Regions from separate parts of the Homo sapiens genome. Here region 1 is linked to region 2. A link means that fine-mapping ties the variant in region 2 to the expression of a gene that starts in the linked region. Tissue or cell type: blood mononuclear cells. Region 2 holds a variant in brackets; the other region holds the start of a gene. All regions are shown on one strand. Distances are between the middles of the regions.

What was found. PIP is the estimated chance that this variant, and not a neighbour inherited with it, causes the effect.
Region 1: KLHDC8B starts here. The variant in region 2 is fine-mapped to the expression of KLHDC8B in blood mononuclear cells (TOPMed, PIP 0.98).

The regions. Positions count from the first base shown.
Region 1 is chr3:49,166,808-49,174,889 of GRCh38, reverse strand. KLHDC8B (kelch domain containing 8B) reads right to left here and starts at 3,292. Exons shown (of 6, transcript NM_173546.3): 1 at 3,205-3,292; 2 at 1,745-2,254; 3 at 487-651; 4 at 1-148. The coding sequence starts at 2,120. RefSeq lists silencers at 3,277-3,376, 3,597-3,766.
Region 2 is chr3:49,918,551-49,926,651 of GRCh38, reverse strand. All of the region lies in intron 1 of MON1A (MON1 vesicular trafficking associated A), which reads left to right. Among named protein-coding and RNA genes, the nearest start is that of MON1A, 7.2 kb to the left of the region's middle. The variant C/T (reference allele first, on the strand shown) is at 3,165.

The DNA.
Region 1 (8,082 bases), 750 kb after region 2:
AGGCCACCCAGGCTAAAGACGCTGCCTTCAGCCATGGCGCAGCCAGCAAAGGCCCGACGGCTGGGTAGGCTTGGATGCCGGGTCCATGTACGGGCCTCCAGATCAAAGGCTTCAAAAGCAGTCACCGGGAGCTTGCCCTGGCGGCCCCCTGTCAATGGAATTGGGGTACCTGGGAAGGAGCCCAGGAGGCTTGGTGGGCTCCTTGCTCACTAGGTTGCTAATCTGCCTGCCTCAGCCTCCCACATCCTGCTGTGTGCACACTTGCACATGAATCATCCACCCTACAGTCCCTCAGGTACTGGGGTTTGGTTTTCCAACCACAGCAAGACCACCAGGGGTCAGAGCCTCAGAGCAGGCATGGATCACCCCAACAAAGCTTCTCTTGTTTTGCCATCCTGGACTGAGCCTGATCCCTATCCCAGCCAACCTATGAGGATGAGGATTTCTAGACTCTGAGCCCCCTTCCCACATTCCCCAGGCCCTTACCCAGGACATAGATCTTGTTCCCGTGCAGGAAGGTGGAGGCCCCATAGCAGGGTGTGGGCATGGAGGGTAGCGAAAGCCAGCAGTCCCGACGGGGCTCATACACACGTACCTGGGCCTGGGGGGCCGTGTCAGGGCCCATTCCCCCCAGAGCATACACCATACCATCTGCATAGAAAAGAGTAGTTCAGATTGTACCTCAGCCTGCCAGGGTACCCCACCCTGACAGCTGCCCTGGTAAGTCCTGGGGGTGGCTGGAGACCCATGTGTTTATAGCATCCCTCCCCAGCAACAGACACTCTACTACCTGCCTGCAGTGGGGGCTGGGAGATCTGGGATTCCTACTCTGGCCAGGGCCCCTCCGAGTAAAGAGCAGGAGGCAGCCGATCTAATTATAATCCGACTCTGTCTCCCTGGAGATGCTATGGCAACAGAGTCTGGCATCCAAGCAGGGCTGGCCTGGGCTGGTGGTCAGACCTGGAGGCCACAAGGTGGGGACTCCCCTCGGGGAGGAAGATGGGGGGATGGCTTAAGCCAGGGGTAAGAAACATGGGGATCTGCTTAGCACAGAGCTCAGTCTGGGGAGGAGGACTGGGGACCAGCTGGAGTTGGAGATGGGGCTGGGAGAGGAATGGCTTGGGTCTGCTGGGTAAAGATACTGTCCACAAGCCTTCTGCCCCAGGATCCCTGCCAGCACCTCTGTGTGACACTCTTTCATTATAGTAGGTTCTTGCCCTCTGTTAAACCCTCAGAGTCAGCTACGACATGTCTGGGGGCCTTAGGGTAATGGGCCAGTCAGCTGGGGGCTTCCATGGCAACCATCCCAGATCAGCTTGGCCTTTGTCCATATCAGGCTCCCTGGCGTGTGGGAAGGGTTGGGGGTGGGGCAGGAAGTCTAAGCACAGGCTCTGAGCCAAGGCCCTACTCCTCTCCCCCACCCCAGACTATTTATAACCCTGGGAGTCATTAGGCCATCCCACCCCCATCTCTTAGAAATGAGGAGTGGGGCAGGAACATGGCTGGGGTCTCCCATCATCCTGGGATCGGCTTGGGCTCTGCCTCCCACCTTAGCCAGAAAAGGCAGTTAATAGAAGGCAGCAGCTCAAATCTAGGTTGGAAAGGATACAGGGGACAAGGCCACATCCTGGGCACCCATGTAAAAATTACAGCTCTTGTTCAGTCTCTGAGGGTAAGGGACTAAGTCAGGAAATAATAAAAGGTGTTAGGGTACCTGAAGTGCCTTCCTTGGGAGGCCACTCACCTCTCTCCACAGTTGCAACCCCCATGGCTGCTTGAGGGAGGGTGGCCCGACGCTCCCAGCGGCCCTCATCCATCAGGAAGGCCTCTACAGCAGCTACCGGGCTCTGGACCTCATCCACACCACCCACCACTAGCACCTGCTTGCCCAGAACTACCGCAGCTGCACCAGCCCGGGCAGTGGGCAGGGGTGCCAGTGCCAGCCATGTGTGCGAGGCCATGTCCAGTGTCTCAGCAGTGTCCAGGGGCAGTCCAGCCCGGCCACAACCCCCCAACACCAGCAGGTGCCCATCTTGGTGTGCCACTGTGCCATAGACCCGGCAAGTGGGCATGGGGGGGAACACTTGCCAAGCAAAGGCCCGGCCACCTCCTGCAGACATGGTGTTCACTGCCAGTGGCAGGCCATGCTGTCTGCTCAGACTGTAGGCCTCACTGGGGAGGCATGACAGGGCCTCATCTTGATTCTGCCAGGGCCACAAGAGGTATATGACCAGTCCAGGGACCTTGCCTTCACCTGGAGGAAAGAGGGAAAACAGGGGTCAGGGCACTGACCGGCCCCTCAGGAAACAAATAAGCAGCCTGTAGCTAAGGGCAGGGCTGGCCCAAAATCACTGGTGGGAAAGGCAGGGGGAGAACCCAACCCCTCTGGCTAGCACACCACTGTGGAGGCCCTCCTGGAGTGGGAAGGAGGGCAGGCCCCAGGTACCCAGGAGCCTTTCCCCTTTCCCATGGAGGCATGAAGGATTCTCCTTCTCACCCACTACCCAAACCACTCAGCAACTGGGTCAAATCTGGGTCTAGGAGGGCAGTAGTAAGGTGACTAGAACAGGACTCTCCATCCAGGACCCTTCCTTTCCCCTCAACAAGCCTCACGCTGGTCCTGCATGAGGGGAGTCCTTACTGGCTTCCAGGGTGCCCTGGGCAGCCTGGGGGTCCCCACGCCTGCTGTCAGGGGTCAGACTCCAGAGTATCCTTACAACATCCTGGGGGCCATTCCACAGGGTTAATTTAAACCATTCCCACTAGTAAAAGACCAGAGTCAGGGTGTGTTTCAGACTAGGGGGAGGACTAAACACCAGGGTTCCACACTCTCCTCTCGAGGTCCCCCCTCAGGAGTTTGCCCATTCCAAACCCCCCCAGAAGCCAGATTCCCTGGTGTCCAGAAGTGGGGTTGGGGCGGGGGGCCGTTGGAGAAATCTCATGACCACAGGACTCCAGGGTCTGAGTCCAGGGCGTTTCCACCAGGAATGGGCAGCTGGACTTCTGGGTTCCCTCGCAGGAGATCCCCAAGTTCTCCAGCCACCCCTTTCTCTTGGTGGCTACACTCCTGGACCCCTGGCAGGAGGGCCTCTTGGCCCCAAACTTCCAGCTCAAGGATGTGGGGGGCGGGTCTGGGCTAACGCGCTTGGGGTTCTACACCCCGCGCCCCAAACTTCCCCTGAGCGCGGTTCCCGCGGGACTCACCCGCCGGTGCTCCGATGCTGCCAGGGTACGGGGTCCGCCGTTCCGCCTCCGTTGACGCGGGATCTGGCTGGGGCTGAAGTCGGGCTCTGGCGGGGCTCCGGCACTGCTCCGGCGCGGGGCGGGGCTGGGCCAGGTCCGCCCCTCGCCCCCCTCCCCCTCCGACTCAGGGAAACCTCCTCTCGCCTTAACCCTGCACATGCCGCAGCTGGAGCAGGGCGTGCCGATCTACGGTCATATGCAAACGGACAGATAAACGGACACTTGGACACTGGGCCTGACAGAATTTAGCGTCCGACCTCGGGCAAGAGTAGAAATGAGGCAGCGGCGAGCGACACAACACGTGTATGGCAAGGGGCAGTTCTGAGCCCGACCCAGCCTGGGTGCGCAGGCTGTGTCGAGCAGGCCAGCCGAACCCGAGGGCTTGAGGGGCCGGCGCCTGCCCACCTCCGCGGAGCTCCCAGGAGCCCAATTACAGGCTTCCCGGCGGCGCCCCCTGGAGGCCACTGGGGACATGGCCTGGGCCTCTGTCGTGTGGGGGCAGCCTGGGGCGCCCTTACCTGGGCATAAAGCAGGAATAGGTCTTACAGTGTACACTGAGGCTAGCGGGGGTGGAGGAACAGAAGGCACTGGCCCTTCTACAAACCTGGGTGGGGAGAATTCCTGGAAGGAGTGATACTGAGCAGAGAATGTGCTGGAAGAGTCAGAGGCCAGGGGACCTCCCAGTGGGTCACTCTGGCCTCATCCTGTAGGGCCTGAGAGACCTGGGCTACTCTGGGACCCAAGGCACATTATAACTATCAATTTTTAGTATCCTGAGCTTGCCTCTAACCAATTCTGGGGTCAAGCAAGAGCAAACTAGTGTGACAGGGGCCCACCTACCTCAGGCCCAGACCTTGGCCCTGCCTATCTTCTGAGCATTCAGAGTATTAGCTAAGTCTTCAAGCTGAGGGCCCATTTGTACAGGTCAGTGGTACCTGTGGGAAGAGGTCCTTGCAGTTGTCTGTGTCTGCTCACTGCCTTGTCCCCCTTTCATGGACAGTGCTTATCTTAGTTTCCCCCAAAGCAGACCTGGACAAAGATATACATGCATATAGTTAGTATGGGAGGTGAGGCCAAGAAACACCAGCAGTGGCAAGGAGACAAGGAAAGCAGCCAATAAAGGAAGTGTCATCAAGCAAGCTACCACTGTGGGCCATTGGGACCAAATCCTGCTGGGGATTCTGGGAGCCAGCGTAGAACATAGGCCTTACATCATTGCTGCCCCCAAGAACAAGGGGAGCTGAGATACTCATTCTCAAATCTCCATTAGTCATGGGTTGAGAGCTGTTTGGGGGCATTACCTATTAACTCCCTGGCCTCCCTCACATCTGGCCTTCCCAGAAGTCTATGGGTAGACCCTCCCGCATGACCGGAGAAGAGAGCCTTTGCTCTTTTCAGGGACTGTCAGTTGGATTCAGTCGGCCTGCACAGAAATGGTGGTGCCAAGGCTGGTTACAGACTGCACAGACCCTGACTTGAAGGCCTCAATCCTCCTTGTCCCACTTCACCTTGGACTTGCTCCTCAGTGCCCTCACTTGGGGCACTGTTTCCACCCTCTTGTGATTGCCAATAGGCTTCCAAGAGGCTCACACTGCTCTGCAGCCCCCTTCACATTTGCTACTGTTCCCTTTCCAAGCTCCCTCCTCCTCCTTTCCAGCAATTAAACACTTACAAGCCACTTGCCTTTAGATACCTCCCAACACCCCAAGTCTCTCTAGTCTCCCCTTCCTCCACTCCAGTCAAACTCTTGAAGCCATCTGTCCTCACAGGCTCCACCTCCTTGTTACTTGTCACCTCAATGTGCTGCCACTCCTCCCCAAAAATTGTTCTTGGAAAAGTCATCATGAAATACCATATAGCTAAAACTATATGTGCCTGTGGTCCTTAACTAAATCTTGCTAGCATCTTCAAAGTTTTGCCCCTTGTGACCTCAACTCCCTCCTGCTGTTTGTCCTGCCTCTGAGAATCTTTATTTTTTATCTATTTATTTTTTTTTTGAGACGGAGTCTTGCTCTGTCACTCAGGCTGGAGTGCAGTGGTGCCATCTCCACTCACTGCAAGCTCCGCCTCCCAGGTTCATGCCATTCTCCTGTCTAAGCCTCCCGAGTAGCTGGGACTACAGGGGCCCGCCACCATGCCCGGCTAATTTTTTTTTTTTTGTATTTCTAGTAGAGATGGAGTTTCACCGTGTTAGCCAGGATGGTCTCGATCTCCTGACCTCGTGATCCGCCCACCTCAGCCTCCCAAAGTGCTGGGATTACAGGCATGAGCCACCGCGCCCAGCCCACCTCTCAAAATCTTTTTTTTGAAACGGAGTTTCACTCTTGTTGCCCAGGCTAGGGTGCAGTGGCGTGATCTCAGCTTACTGCCACCTCCGCCTTCCGGTGGTTTCAAATGATTCTCCTGCCTCAGCCTCCCGAGTAGCTGGGACTACAGGCACGTGCCACCATGCCCAGCTAATTTTTTGTATTTTTAGTAGACATGGGGTTTCACCATGTTGGCCAGGATGGTCTCCATCTCTTGACTGCGGGATCCGTCCGCCTTGGCCTCCCAAAGTGCTGGAATTACAGGCATGAGTCACCGCGCCTGGCCTAGAATCTTTTGCAGGCTCTGCTTCTTCTCCATCACCAGGAATTGGCTCCTCAAGATTCAACCCTGGCTTTTCTCCCTGGCACACATATTTCCTCTTGGGGCAGTCCCTCCCAGGCCACTGCCTTCATTCACATCTAAAGCTCCATCACATCTCTCTGCTCAGATAGAGCTGGGTCCAGGATCCACTGAGAACCATATAAGGCTGGAGGGGCAGGTGGCTCACACGTGTAATACTAGCACTTTGGGAGGCTGAGGTGGGCAGATCACCTGAGGTCAGGAGTTCAAGACCAGCCTGGCCAACATGGTGAAACCCCAGCTTGACTAAAAATACAAAAAATTGGCCAGGCACAGTGGCTCACGCCTGTAATCCCAGCACTTTGGGAGGCCAAGGTGGGTGGATCATTTGAGGTCAGGAGCTTGAGACCAGCCTGGCCAACATGGTGAAACCCCACCTCTACTAAAAATACAAAAATTAGCCAGGTGTGATGGCAGGCGCCTGTAGTCCCAGCTACTCTGGAGGCTGAGGTAGGAGAATTGCTTGAACCTGGGAGGCAGAGGTTGCAGTGAGCTGAGATCACGCCACTGCACTCCAGCCTGGGCAACAAAGGAGACTGTCTCAAAAAAAAAAAAAAAAAAAAAAAAAAGGAAGAAGAAGGAAAAAAAGAACCATATAAGATGCCAAATGGAAAGCAAAGATTGGGTCCTGGGATCACCCTGTGTTCTCTCCCATCTCATCCTGTCTGGTCCCAGTTGTGCCTGTAGGCTCAGCAGCCACTAGAGTCCAGGTCAAGTCAGACTGCACTCTGATGAGCGCTCCCAAAGAGTTCCATCTAGGGCATACTGGGCACCAGGAGGCAAAAAGTTCGGCCCTACCACCCCCAAAGGGAGCTAGGTACCCCCATGATCCTTATCCCTAATCTCTATCATTTCCCCAGTTCTCATGTCTGGAAGGGACACAGCACAGCCGGAGGATGGACCTACCCTTCCTGGTTTTCCATTTGCCCTAACTTCTGAGCTGAACATCACCAGAGAGGGGTCTGGATATAACTGTACTGTTGCTATCCCTGGAGGATGGGCTCTGGCTCTCCATGGAAGGGGTTTCTGTTTGCACAGCCATGGCCCACCTGCACACAGGAGGCCAACACTGCCGGCTTTGGAGAAGCTGCAGAAGGTAACTGGTTGAATCGGTCCTGAATAAGTGAACAGTCAATCTTCAACCATGGACGGCCAGAGACTGGACTCACCCACAGCTGGGGACTGGGGGCACCAAGGTGGGGCTTCCTGACTGCACCCCATGAGATCCTGGCCCCTGGGACCCTACTCTTGCTTTCTCTCCACCAGGAAAAAAAGGCTAGAAGCACTGACCCCAGAGGAACAGGAGATTTTGCAGTTCCTGCTAGATACCTTGGCTATACTTAAAAGCAGCGAGGACCTCACCATTAGTGCTGAGGCCCTGGGAAGCTAAGAGGCACCAGATGAGGCCTATGGCACTGCTGGGTGGACTAGGCACTTGTCTTTAGGAGTGCCTGGACCCCTCTGTATAAGCAGGGAAAATACAGAGCAACCAGAGGATCCTGGTTGGAAAAAGGGCAGGAAAAAGGGCTAGTACCCAGTCCCTAAATGAAGCATCCCGCCACCCTCCTGTGATTGCCAATAGGCTTCCACCTGACCCCAACTACCAAATAAGGCACCACTGCAAGGGTCAGAGTCCAAGAGTTGTGGCAATATTTCTGCCTCCTGGCTCAGGCTCTGACCCTAGTGCAAATGCCCCCACTACCTCATCCATGAAACCAGGGCTCCCAGGATGGTTCCCAACCTGGACTTGCAAACCTCTGACTAATGGGACCTTTGGTCAGAGCTGTGGAGACCACTCTGACCTCTCACTGAAGTCACAGACCCCTAGGGTTGATTTTGACCTGTGTCCTATAACCACCACCCCGTACTAGCCCAAGAGCATGGATAAAAAGACTGAGGTCCCAGACTCCTAGGCAAAAGGAAAGGGGTTCTGGGCAGTGTTAAGACTGGAAGCAGGACTTCCTTCCATTGAGGGGCTGAGGCTGGGCCAGTGACTATACCTGCCCCCACCTGCCTGAGCAAGTATACTCAGGCCCACAGTGGTATACTGGAGCCCCCAGACTCCATGTGCGCTTGGGCTTGCGTGCACCACTTGTGATCACGTGCACACCAGCCTTTCATGCCATGTGCCACAGGCCCTATTCTCAGGAAGAGAGGAAGGCCTGCTGTCCT
Region 2 (8,101 bases):
CATCTCTACAAAAATAAAAATTAAAAAATTAGCCAGGCGTGGTGGCACGTGCCTGTAGTCTCAGGTACTCAGGAGGCTGAGGTGGAAGGATCATTTGAGCCTGAGAGGCCAGGGCTACAGTTAGCTGTGATTGCATCACTGCACTCCAGCCTGGGTGACAGAGTGAGATTCTGTCTCAAAAAAAATAGAACTCCTCCCGCATGTGGCTTAAAGCCATACTGAAATTTGTGGTAGGTCACAGGGTAACCTTCAATCCAGAGAAATAAAGCAGGGCAAGAGGGGTAAGGAGCAGGGATATTGATAAGGTAATGCTTGAGCAGCAACCTGAAGGGAGTGAGGGACTGAGTCACATAGATAACTAGCCCAGGCAATGGAGTAGGTGAAGTGGGGTGCAGGGGGAAAGTTCAGCAACGGCAAAGTTCTAAAGTTAAAGAGTGCCCAGGAGGCTTAAGGAAAGCCAGGAGGCCACTATGGCTGGGCTGAATCACAGTTAGTGGGGAAAAAGGATAAGAGATGAGGTCAAAGAAGTAATGGGGAAGGAGTTATGTTGAGTGGGGCCTTGTGCACCACTGTGAGGAAATTGGCTTTCTCACTGAGTAAGGTGGGACCATTACAGAGTTGTGAGCAGAGGAACTGCATGACCTGAGTTCTGTATCAAGAGAATCACTTTGCTGTAAGAAGCACAGATTATGCAGGGACAAGGGCAAAAGAGGGGAGACTAGATAGGAGATTACTGCAACAATCTCCTAGAGAGACACTGGTGGCTTTGACCACAGTGGTAGCTGTGGAGGTGACAAGTGGTCAGATTCTGGATATAGGCATTTCCCACTTAACATCAGTAATCTGTTTCATGAAAATTGGACATTCTGTGTGAAATCTTCAACTTAATATATTTTCCATTGATTGATTGATTGAGACAGGGTCTTGCTGTGTTGCCCAGGCTGGAGTACAGTGGCACAATCACGGCTCACTGCAGCCTTGACCTCCTGTACTCAAGCGATCCTCCCACCTCAGCCTCTTAAGTAGGTGGGACTACAGGCATGAGCTGCCCCACCCAGCTGATTTTTTATTTTGTAGAGACAGGGTCTCACTATGTCAGCCAGGCTGGCACTCAGTAATTTTCTATCAGTTCTATTTGGAATATAATTTGAAGCTTTAAATGCACATTACTTTGTTAAAAATATAGATAAGATTTTAATGATGTAAATATACATATTTTCTGTATAAACATACACTGGGCCAGGTGTGGTGGCTCACACCTGTAATCCCAGTACTTTGAGAGGCTGAGGCAGGCAGATCACTTGAGTCAAGGAGTTTGAGAGCAGCTTGGGCAACATAAGGAGACCCTGTCTCTACAAAAAATTAAAAAATTAGCCAGGCATGGTGGCACATGCCTGTGGTCCCAGCTACTTGGGAGGCTGAGGTGGGAGGATCACTTGGGCCTGGGAGGTTGAGGCTACAGTGAACCATGATCACACTATTGCACTTCGGCCTGGGTGGCAGAGTGAGACCCTGTCTCAATAGATAAATAAATAAACATAAGCTGAATCAACATAAGTTTGGTATATTAGTTAACTATTGCTGTGTAACAAATTATGCCAAAACTTAGCAGCTTAAAACAACAATATTTATTATCTCATACAGTTCTTGTGGGTCAAGAATTTGGGAGTGGCTTAGCTGGATGGCTCAAGCTCAGGGTCTCTTATTACGTTGAAGTCATCTGAAGGTTTGACTGGGCCTAGATGATCTGCTTCCGAGATGACTCACTCATGACTAGCAAGTTGGTACTGGCTGTTCACAGGAGGTCTCAGTCCCTTGCCATGAAGTTCTCTCCATAGAGCTGCTTACATGTCCTTACAACATGGCTGATGGCTTTCCCTAGAGGGAATGATCCAAGAGAACAAGGCAGAAGCCACAATGTCTTTTATGACCTAGCCTCAGAAGTCACACATTGTTTTTTCATTTTTTTTTGAGACAGGGTCTGCTCTGGCACCCAAGCTGGAGTGCAGCAGTGCGATCTCAGCTCACTGCAACCTCTGCCTCCCCCCGGGTTCAAGTGATTCTCATACCTTAGCCTCCCAAGCAGTTGGGATTACAGGCGCCCGTCATGACACCTAGGTAATTTTTGTATTTTTAGTAGAGATGGGGTTTCACCATGTTGTCCAGGCTGGTCTCAAACTCCTGACCTCAAGTGATCAGCCCATCCTGGCCTCCCAAAGTGCTGGGATTACAGGCATAAGCCACTGTCCCCAGCCACACATTGTTATTTACACAGTGTCCTATTGGTTGCATAGGTCAGCCCTGCTCAGTGTGGAAAGGGAGTATGCAAAGTCGCATAGCAGGAGTTGAGGATTACTAGAGACCATCTTGAAGGCTGACAACCAAGCTGGATATTAAAAACAAAAAGGCATTCTATGGTGAAAATGTTAACTAGAGACATTTTGCTGGATGTGCCTGTATTCTGAAATAGAGCTAACAGGATTTGCTGATGGTTTGGTATATGAGGTGTGGGGAAAAAAAGAGAGGCGTAAGGGATGACTCCAAGGTTTTTTGTTTTTTTTTTTTCCTATGAGACAGAGTCTCGCTCTGCCACCCAGCCTGGAGTACAACGACACGATTTTGGCTCACTGCAACCTCTGCCTCTCCAGTTCAAGCAATTCTCCTGTCTCAGCTTCCTGAGTAGCTGGAACTACAGGCACGTGCCACCATGCCCGGCTAATTTTTTGTATTTTTAGTAGAGACAGGGTTTCACCGTGTTAGCCAGCAAGGTCTCGATCTCCTGACCTCATGATCTGCCTGCGTCGGCCTCCCAAAGTGCTGGGATTACAGGTGTGAGAAACCGTGCCCGGCCGACTCCAAGGTTTTTCACCAAACAACTGAAAGAATGAGATTGTCTTTCTTGGCCAGGTGAGGTGGCTCACACCTGTAATCCCAGCACTTTGGGAGGCCAAGGTGGGCAGATCACAAGGTCAGGGGTTTGAGACTAGCCTGGCCAACATGGTGAAACCCTGTCTCTACTAAAAATACAAAAATTAGCCAATGTGGTGGCACACGCCTGTAGTCCCAGCTACTCGGGAGGCTGAGGCATGAGAATCGCTTGAACCTGGGAGGTGGAGCTGAGATTGCGCTGTTGCACTCCAGCCTAGGCAACAGAGCAAGACTGT[C/T]TCAAAAAAAAAAAAAAAAGAGCTTGTCTTTCTTTCGTTCTTCCCTTCCTTTCTTTCTTTCTTTCCTTCCTTTCTTCCTTTCCTTCCTTTCCCTCCTTCCCCTCCTTCCCCTTCCTTCCTTCCTCCCTTCCCTCCCTCCCTCCCTCCCTTCCTTCCCTCCCAGAGTCTCGCTGTGTCACCCAGGGTGGAGTGCGGTGGCGCGATCTCAACCTCCACCTCCCGGGTTCAAGGGATTCTCCTGCCTCAGCCTCCCGGGGTAGCTGGAATTACAGGCATGCGCCACCACACCCGGCTAATTTTTTGTATTTTTCATAGAGATGGGGTTTCACCGTGTTAGCCAGCATGGTCTCGATCGCCTGACCTCATGATCTGCCTGCCTCGGCCTCCCAAAGTGCTGGGATTACAAAGTGTGAGAAACCGTGCCCGGCTGACTCCACGGTTTTTCACCAAACAACTGAAAGGATGAGATTGTCTTTCTTGGCCAGGTGTGGTGGCTCACACCTGTAATCCCAGCACTTTGGGAGGCCAAGGCAGGCGGATCACCAGGTCAGGGGTTTGAGACCAGCCTGGCTAACATGGTGAAACCCTGTCTCTACTAAAAATACAAAAATTAGCCTGTGTGGTGGCACACGCCTGTAGTCCCAGCTACTTAGGAGGCTGAGGCACGAGAATTGCCTGAACCCAGGAGGTGGAGCTGAGATCGCACTGTTGCGGTGAGCTGAGATCGCGCCATTGCACTCCAGCCTGGGCAACAGAGCAAGACTGTCTCAAAAAAAAAAAAAAGAAATTGTCTTTTTTTCTTTCGTTCTTTCCTTCTTTCCTGGCTTCTTTCCTTTCTTCTTTTCCTTCCTTTCTTCCTTTCCTTCCTTTCCCTCCTTCCCCTTCCTTGCTTCCTTCCTTCTTTCCTTCCTTCCCTCCTTCCTTCCCTCCTTCTTTCCCTCCCTCCCTCCCTCCCTCCTTCCTTCTCTCCCTCCCTCCTTCCCTCCTTCCTTCCTTCCTTCCTCCCTTTACAGAGTCTCGCTCTGTCACCCAGGGTGGAGTGTGGTGGCACGATCTCAACCTCCGCCTCCTGGGTTCAAGCTGGAGTGCGGTGGTGCGATCTCAACTCTGCCTCCCAGGTTCAAGCGATTCTCCTGCCTCAGCCTCCCGGGGTAGCTGGGATTACAGGCATATGCCACCACACCTGGCTAATTTTTTTATTTTTAATAGAGACGGGGTTTCACTGTGTTAGCCAGGATGGTTTCGATCTCCTGACCTTGTGATCTGCCCACCTCGGCCTCCCAAAGTGCTGGGATTATAGGCGTGAGCCACTGCTCCCGGCCGTCTTTCTTTCTTTCTTTTTTTTTTTTTGAGACAGAGCTTTGCTCTTATTGCCCAGGCTGGAGTGCAATGGCGTGATCGTGGCTCACTGCAACCTCTGCCTCATGGGTTCAAGTGATTCTCCTGCCTCAGCCTCCCAAGTAGCTGGGATTACAGGCATGCACCACCACACTTGGCTAATTTTGTATTTTTAGTAGAGATGGGGTTTCACCATGTTGGCCAGGCTGGTCTTGAACTCCTGACTTCAGGTGATCCACCCACCTCGGCCTCCCAAAGTGCTGGGATTACAGGCATGAGCCACTATGCCCAGCCATGAAATTGTCTTTTACTGAGATGGTGAAAACTCTGGGAGAAGTGGTAAGTGCCTGTAGTCCCTGCTACTCGGGAGGCTGAGGCAGGAAGTTCACTTGAGCCCAGGAATTTGAGGCTGTAGTGCATGGTGGGGTGGTGATTACACCTGTGAATAGCCACTGCACTCCAGACTTGGTGACAGAGCAAGACCCCATCTCTTAAAAAAAAAAAAAAAAAAGTGCTACCACGCCCGGCTAATTTTTTGTATTTTTGGTAGAGATGGGTTTCCCGTGTTAGCCAGAGTGGTCTCGATATCCTGACCTGGTGATCCGCCCACCTCAGCCTCCCAAAGTGCTGGGATTACAGGCGTGAGCCACTGCACCCGGCCTTTTTTTCTTTTTAAAGACAGGTTCTCTACCAGCCAGGCGTGGTGGCTCAGGCCTGTAATCCCAGCACTTTGGGAGGCTGAGGCAGGCGGATCATGAGGTCAGGAGGTTGAGACCATCTTGGCTAACACGGTGAAACCTCGTCTCTACTAAAAAATACAAAAAATTAGCCGGGTGTGGTGGCAGGCGTCTGTAGTCCCAGCTACTCGTGAGGCTGAGACAAGAGAATGGCATGAACCCAGGAGGTGGAGCTTGCAGTGAGCTGAGATCGCGCCACTGCACTCCAGTCCAGGCGACAGAGCGAGACTCCATCTCAAAAAAAGAAAAAAAAAAGGAGACAGGGTCTCACTCTTATTGCCGAGGCTGGAGTGCAGTGGCACGATCTTGGCTCATTGCAAGCTCTACCTCCCGGGTTCCTGTGATCCTCCCACCTTAGCCTCCTGAGTAACTGGGACCACAGACACGTGCCACCACGCCTGGCTAATTTTTGTATTTTTGTAGAGGCAGGGTTTGCCATATTGCCCAGGCTGGTCTTGAACTCCTGGGCTCAAGTAATCTGCTTGCTTTGGCCTCCCAAAGTGCTAGGATTACAGGTGTAAGCCACCATACCCAGCTAGGAGCAACTTTTTAAGGAGATGACCTTTTTTTTTTTTGATGCAGAATCTGGCTCTGCTACCCAGGCTAGAGTGCAGTGGCACGATCTTGGCTCACTGCAACCTCCGCCTCCCACATTCAAACAATTCTCCTGCCTCAGCCTCCTGAGTAGCTGGGATTACAGGCGTGTGCCACCACACCCAGCTAATTTTCATATTTTTAGTAAAGATGGGGTTTCACCAGGTTAGCCAGGCTGGTCTCAAACTTCTGACCTCGTGATCCACCCTCCTCGGCCTCCCAAAGTGCTGGGATTACAGGTGAGAGCCACCACGCCTGGCCAGGAGATGGCCTTTTTAAGGAGTTCAGTTTGAGGCATATAACCTTGAGATAACATGAAGTAGACAGTTAAATGTGTGTGCCTCTTTAAGTCAGAAAAGATATTGGGGCTGGAGATTAAAAAAAAGTATTAATATGTAGAGGGAATTTAAAACTATGAGACCAAATGAGATCACCAAGGGATTGAGTGAAGACAGAGAAGAGGTCCAAAGACTGAATTCTGTGCCCCTTTACAGTAAGAACTGCAAAAAGGACTCAGAAGGAGTAGTCCATGAGGTCAGAAGAGAGCCAAGAAAGGAGTGGTATGCCATAAAAGAGGAGAAAATGTTTCAAGAGAGAGGAAATAACCAAATTATCTATTGTTTATGGGTGAAGTAAGATGATCCTGGAGGTCGTTGGTGACCTTGATGGGAGCAGTGTTGATGGAGTAATGGAGGTGAGATTCTGTTCAGAACTGGTTTAGAGAGAATGGGAGAAATGGAGAGGCTACGGCAGAGACAATTCCTGCTTTCCAGATATCCGTGAGCTCCATATATTTCCCAGTCCCTCTGGCCACATCACTGGTTCTGGCCAATGTGAGCTACGAAGTATTTAAGAGCTGGTACATGATCCTCCATCTCTGTCTTCCCTTGCCAGGTGATGTGGAAGGCATGTGTTCCGAATGGCTTCTATAGGGTGCTAGTGGCTTGGATTCCTGAATCACTGCTTGGAAGGGAGCTACTCTGAATTGCTACCAGTCCCACAGTAGATTTTATGTGAGCAAAAAATAGGTCTTTGGGGCTGGGTGCGGTGGCTCATGCCTGTACTCCCAGCACTTTGGATCCGTGAAGGTGGGCGGATCACCTGAGGTCAGGATCACCTGAGACCAGCCTGGCCAACATAGTGAAACCCCGTCTCTACTAAAAATACAAAAATTAGCCAGGTGTGGTGGTGGGCGTCTGTAATCCCAGCTGCTCGGGAGGCTGAGGGAGGAGCATCGCTTGAACCCAGGAGTCAGAGGTTGCAGTGAGCGGAGATGGCGCTGCTGCACTCCAGCCTGGGTGACAGAGTGAGACTCCGTCTCAAAAAATAAAAAAAGATCTTTGGGTGTAAAACCTGTAGCATTTGGCATCCATTTTTTACACAGAATAGTCTAGCCTACCTGACTAATGCAAACTCCAAATATTATTTGCCATTTTGAGGGGGTTTGTTTGTTTTTTTATAAAGGGCAACAGAAAAATGGGTTGATAGCTAGTGGGGAATGTAGAGTTAAGGGGAAGTTTGTTTTGTTTTAACTTTGAAGTAAAACAAACATATAGAAAAGTTCACAAATCATAAGTATAGCCCAGTGAATTATTACAAAGCGAACACCCCCAAAATTGTTTGGTTTTTGTTTTTGAGACAGGATCTCACTCCCTTTACCCAGGCTGGAGTGCAGTGGTGTGATCACCACTCACTGCAGCCTGGACCTCCTGGGATCAGGTGATTCTCCCACTTCAGCTTCCCAAGTAGCTGGGACTGTAGGTGCATGCCACCACACCTGGTTAATCTTTTGTACTTTTTGTAGAGATGGGGTTTTACCATGTTGCCTAAGCTGGTCTCAAACTCCTAGGCTCAAGTGGTTTGCCCACCTAGGCCTCCCAAAGTACTAGGATGACAGGCATGAGCCACCAAGCCCTGCTGGGAGGGGGTTTTGAAGACAAGAAATATCACCATATTGGTAATGGATAAGGGAGAAGGGGAAACTGATGAGGAGGGACAGCTGCTGAAGCCATGTACCTGAGTAGGTGAGAGGGGCTGGGCTCTGGTGTACACATGGAGGAGTTAGCCTCTATGGAGCATGAACAGCTCATCTTTAGTAAGAAGAGGGGGCCAGGCACGGTGGCTCATGCCTGTAATCCCAGCACTTTGGGGGACTGAGGCGGGTGGATCATTTGAGGTCAGGAGTTTGAGACCAGCCTGGCCAACATGGTAAAACCCCGTCTCTACTAAAAATACAAACATTATCCGGGCGAAGTGGTGGGTGCTTGT